2 separate regions of the Homo sapiens genome follow, and region 2 is linked to region 1. The links come from fine-mapping of genetic effects on gene expression. A gene starts in region 1. The other region holds a variant in brackets. All regions are shown on one strand. Distances are between the middles of the regions. Region 1 holds the start of CYRIA (CYFIP related Rac1 interactor A). Region 2 overlaps CYRIA (CYFIP related Rac1 interactor A).

Region 1 (2,906 bases):
GTCAGAAGCACGCAGGAAAAACAGCCCCTGCTCTGCCTCCTGTCTCCACTGCAAAGCAAGCCCTCGAACCCCAACCAGAGATCAGTGAAAGCCGACAATGATCCACCCAAAGAACTCTGGTACCCAAGCCCAGACCTGGCTAGCAGCCACTCTCCTCCTGCTGCCCCAGCACAAGTCCCAGCCTTCCAGGGTCCCAGATCAGCATTCTGTGCCCTGGGGACTCGACACTGTGCAGATGGCCCAGGTCCCATCCAGAGGAGATAGTGACTGGTGACAGAGAGGAAAGTTTCTAACAGGGAGAAAAGGAGGGTCACAGAGCTTCAGGGGAGATCAGGGCCCTAAACTCCAGCCCCATGACCCTGTCTTGGGTTCCCTGGGGAGCAGGCGGGTAAACAAGGGTGTGGGAGAGGACATCAGGCCCTGGACACAGAAAGATTGCTCCATCAGTTCTGGACCTGGCACCCCCAAAACAGTGGCTGGGGGAATTCTGGGGATGCGTGGGGAAATAGCTTTGGAGGCCTTAAATGACAAAGATCTTGGCCCTGGTCTCTGGGGACACTGGCTAGCGAGTAGGAGCAGCTTGGAGGAGGACCCAGGGACGGGCTGGCCCATTTTGACAGAGAATGTCTCCTGGCAGACAAGACAGGTGTCTCCACCAAAAAGCATGGCTGGCCTGGGACCAGCATTTTGGGAAGTGGGTCAAATTGTTCCCAAAGCTCAGTATTGGAAAAGTGCCTTTTGCCAAACTGGGGTTCTGGGTTCTGGGGGAGGAGAGAGGGTGACGGCAAGGTGTGCTGGGTCCTAGGCACAGCAGCTTTCTGGCTGGCTAAGAACGTCTGTGGCAGGTGGCAACAGAAGGGTCCAGGTGTGCAGGGGCTGGGGAGGGGGCCATCCCTCCCTTTGGGGCTGTAGAGAGTACCCAGGACCCCGGGGCCTCGGGTGGTGGGAAGGGGAGTGTTAGGGGTCCCCTGCAAGAATGGAGCTTATGATACCTGGGGTGGGGGGTAAGTGAGTGAGGGACGAGGGAGGGTGGTCTGGGAAAGGAACACAATCAGGAGGCAGCCCTCTCAGAAAGAGGGCAACGGGGCACAAAGCCGGACCTCTGTCCGGCGATCGCTAGAGAAGGGCTCCCGGACGGTGTCCTCCGCTCTCCCTCCCTCCCAAAGGCTGCAGGGGCGTCCGGGAGGAGAAGGATGGCAGGGAGGCGCCCGCCCCGCCTCGCGGTGCCCCGCGGTGCCCCGTGCAGGCCGAGCCCCGCGCCCGCAGACCCCCGCCCGCGCCCCTGCCGCGCCCCCAGCCGCGCCGCGCTCACCGAGTCGCCGCCGCCCTGCTCTGCCGCCCGCTCCGCCGCCGCCGAGTACGCCTCTCCCGCGGCCGCCGCAGCCTGCGAGACGGCCTCGGAGCCCCGCCCCGCCCCTCCCCGTCCCTCCCCGCCCCGCCCCGCCCCCAGCCCGGCTCGCGGCAGCCGCCCCGCCCCGGCCCCGGGGGATCCCCACCCGCGCTGTCACCGGCCGCGTCCTCACCCTAGCCTGGACAACCCCATCTCTTTGCCCGGCTCTGCTCTCTGCTCCCAGGAGCTGGTGCGGACCCGCCCCAGCACGGTCGCCCCTGCCCCTTCTCAGCCTTGGCCACTTGGCCTTGCCTTCCCAGAGGAAGCCCGAACCAGACCTTTCTGTTTCTGCACACCAAATTCCTCCACACCCACGGTTGCCCTCCAAGAAAAAGAAATCCCCGCAATCTCTAGACGCATATTCACCTTCAAATTAATGCCCAGCCAAATCATCCCAATCCCTAGGCACACTCCAAATTACTTGAGATTCTGAACCCAGTCTCGCTCCCAGTCCCTTTCTGCCCACCCTATTAACAGATCTCCAGCCTTGGGGCCCGCAGTTATCCGATAGGACCACTGTAAAGTCTTCCCAAAGGCTCAATCCAAAACATGTAATTAACCTTAAAGAGTAAGTCTGCAAAAACACTTAAAAAATTCTATGATGCAAAAAGAAAGTAGTGGGTTACAGCGTCATTGACGTGATCATTGTTCTAAAACATCTGCCATGGAGGCTTTTTGCATTAGAGAGAGGGAGATTCAGGAAACCGGAGAGGACTCAGCAGTGCCAAACAGGTTGTGAGTCAGAGCTCCTGTTGAGGGGAGGGAGAGCTCCTGGGGACCCCGGCTTCGGGTGCTTCCTTTCCCAGTCCATCAGCCAGAACATCATGAAACATGTGTTAAATCCCCATAGTGTGCCAAGGTACGTGCCCGAAGCTGCATGGGTTGGGGCCCTGTGTGGGCTGGGATCAGAGGAGGCGGGAAGCATCAGGAGAAGGTGTTCAGGCCCCTCTCCTTTCTGAGATCCAGGGTGTTTCCCCTGGGAGGACTTGTTGCCCAAGCTTCCTTTGCACTCTGAAAGGCTCTCCTGAACTGCCCACAGAGGCTCTTGGTCTGTTTTTTGGCAAAAATTCACAGAGGGCAGGAAGGCACTGTCTAGTTAGAGTGAAATATTTTCCCACTTGGAAGGGGTCCTTAGGACCAGAAGAAACACTTTCCCGTTCTCTTTTTGAGTTTTCCCCATGCCCTAGACCAGCCTCTGTTGTCAATTCCTGCAAAGGTGTTTTTTTTGTTTTTGTTTTTTGAGACAGAGTCTCACTCTGTAGCTCAGGCTGGAGTGGAGTGGTGTGATCTCGGCTCACTGCAACCTCCATCCCCCGGGGTTCAAGCAATTCTCCTGCCTCAGCCTCCAGAGTAGCTGGGACTACAGGCGCCTGCCACCACATCCGGCTAATTTTTGTATTTTTAGTAGAGACGGGGTTTCACCATCTTGGTCAGGCTAGTCTTGAACTCTTGACCTCGTGATCCACCCACTTTGGCCTCCCAAAGTGCTGGGATTACAAGCGTGAACCACCGCAGC
Region 2 (2,906 bases), 31 kb before region 1:
ATGAGGTGATATCAAAGGCAGGAGGAGAACCTGGATCGCTGAATAACTAGCTGAGGGTTCTTCCCTCAGTCCCAGGTGCTTCCCAGGCTAACGTTGGACCACAGACAGAATGACTAGGAGCACATGACACTGAGTCATGGTCGAGGTGAAAAAGTCAAGACCAACTAAGTATTTAGGCTTGATAAGCTTACACTGTTGACAGCCAGCCGATCCACTAAGCAACCAAGTGGGCAGCAGGCATCTGAGACTCAGGCAGAGGTTCATCTACTCTTTACACCAACACTAGGAAGGGGATCACTATTTCTCCTTTTGCAGGTGTGGAAAATGAGGCTCCCAGTGGTCACAGCTGCTATCTGGACTAAAACACCAGCCACACCCCTTCTCTTATATTCCAGAATGGTAAAATCCAACAGCCCCCCACTGTCACCACTTTGATGCCTCCCAAGCATCTTACAGTAGACACATCTGATGGTAAGTAACAGCATCTAGTCCCTGCCCAAGAGACCATTCTGTCCAGGACCCCCTTCTGGGGAACTTCATTTCTGCTCTAAGACCAGAGGTATCCCATGACTTTTCTAATTCCTTCAATGGAAAGACTGTGAAAAGAAACTTTCATTTAACAGAAGAGGGGGATAACTCCACTCTAACTGCTTTATGTTTATCCAGAGAAGTTATCAAAAACTCTTACCAGGTGACTGCTTTCCCCACAGCACATCACAGTGATAAGGGCATGTGTCTGGGGGGTGGCAGAACAAGGTCCAGAGGAGAGCAAGACTAATATGTGATCAGCAGCACACATGGACTTGGGGGCATTCTGAGCTGGCTGGCACCAGCTCACCAGATCCAACTGTACAGATCCCTTCCCAACTTCACATTCAGTGACGCCATGGAAGTAGCTTGAAACCAGCCATGGTGGAAGTATTTACACCATGGAAATTGTCCCACGCTCCCAGCAAGTTTGTTTGGCTTTCGTTTATCCCAGATAATTGGTTATTAAGCATTTAGGAGCAAACCACTGAATGGATCCATAAGATGGACACTGGGTTGGGAAGACAAGACTTAAATTGTAGCTAAAGCTCTACCGCCAACTCACTGTTTGACTTGAGCAAGTTTCTTCCTGGTCCTAAGTTTCCTTAACTGTAAAGGACATAAAGAGCACTTTGGTAAATGTAAAATAGGGAGGAGACATTTGACAATGTCTGCAGACATTTTTGGTTGTCACAACTGAGGTAGATGTGGTGCTACTGGACAGGGATGCTGCCAAGCATCCTATCACGCACAGGAAAGCCCCTCTTCCTCCCTTAACAGAGACCTACTTTTCCCAACATGTTCCTAGTGCCAAGGTTGAGAGATCCTGATGGGGAGATAGTCTCACAGTAGCCCA[C/T]TGAAATACCTTGAACACATCAGCATGCACAAGGAAAATAAAAGGAGTCAGCTTGCAGGAACCCTGGGAGGGCAGTGGTGTAAAACATTGCCACGGATGCTACAGGTTTACAATGCAAGGATGAGGTAGATCTCTTGCCCTAACATGGTACCGGGCACACCATAGGTGCTCAGTAATCATTTGCGGGAAAAGTAAACGTGTCTAGTTGAAATAGCAATGCAGTCTCTCTTTAGCAAGCCTATACTCCAGTGTGTGTGCATCCCCCCACAGTGACACCAGGCAGAAGAATCTGACAAGTGTCTATTCACCTCCTCTCACCTCCTCTGGGAGGGTAGTGAAAAGACACGGTGTGAAGTTCTAGCCCTGGAGACTCAGATTAGACAAATAATCACTAGCCTGGCATCCAGAGCCGCGATGGTCAGAAGAGCAATTTTATTTAAGTCACTTTCTAATAGGAGTTGAAGCGTCTTGAAAAGTGAGGTTTTCAAAGGCTCCTCTGGGGAGGCAATTGTCAAAAACACACAGCAGGCAACCTTGCTTTCGACACATTCAAAGCCACTTTTTAAAGACAATCCTTTTCTTCTCTGTACCACTTGGGATTGAAAATGCATTTAGCACAAACCACCAGAAGCAGAAACAGCGTTGGATAAGAAACGCGACCGACATTGTGGCAAGCACGGGGAACTGCAACAGAATCTGATCAGGCTGGCACCACTCAGACATGCACAAGGAAAGAGGCAATGGCAGGCAGCATATCTACTGTCCCTCAGCCTCTGGGGTCTGGAGTCAGCGAAAGTAGGGGGTGAGGTGTAACCACAGCCGTTGCTGGAAGTCCCTTGCAAGACTCCGGATTCTGAGTTCTCACACTGAGAGTGGCAGCTGATTTCTAAACAAGCAGATGACAGAACACAGGACCTCCCTCTGTGTCTCCCTGAAGATCTGAATCTGACCATAAACCATCCGACTCACAAAGCCCTTTAATTAAAAGCCCAAGGGCCCAGAGCTAATTCGAGATGTGGCAAGACCCAGTGGCTTCTCAAGCACCAGAACTGTGAGCAGATTAATGGGGATAATTTCGCCCTTCCTGGTCTATAAATGACAACTCACTCAGATGCACTGAATGCCAGAGCTGGAAGCCACCTGGGCAACTCTCTGCCCAGCCCCTTGCTTTGTGAATGAGGAGCTCATGGTCCAGGATAGGAGGCCAACTGCCCCAGGCCCGGTCCCGAGTTTCTTACTGACTTTCAGCTAAATGCAGCTTTCTTGGTGTCCAGTGCTGAGTCACCTATCTATTCAGAGAAAATGTTTTTGTTGAGGTCTCTACACTCCCTCTGCAAGGCTTACTCAGAACTCCGGACAAGCTGGTTACAATCCATCTGGGACCTAGGGCCACAGGTTGGAAGTAGGACAACTTCAGGGAAAGAAATTACCCCTGCCTGGGCAACGTAGTAAGATCCTATCTCTCCCCCAACCCCTTGCCAAAAAAAAAAATAAGAAAGAAATACAAAACATTAGCTGGGCA

Evidence for each region.
Region 2: its variant is fine-mapped to the expression of CYRIA in whole blood (TOPMed, PIP 0.92).

Annotation. Positions count from the first base shown.
Region 1 is chr2:16,664,468-16,667,373 of GRCh38, forward strand. CYRIA (CYFIP related Rac1 interactor A) reads right to left here and starts at 1,367. Exons shown (of 12, transcript NM_030797.4): 1 at 1,313-1,367. RefSeq lists silencers at 1,284-1,333, 1,404-1,573.
Region 2 is chr2:16,633,932-16,636,837 of GRCh38, forward strand. The region is part of intron 1 of CYRIA (CYFIP related Rac1 interactor A); the gene reads right to left. Among named protein-coding and RNA genes, the nearest start is that of CYRIA, 30 kb to the right of the region's middle. The variant C/T (reference allele first, on the strand shown) is at 1,385.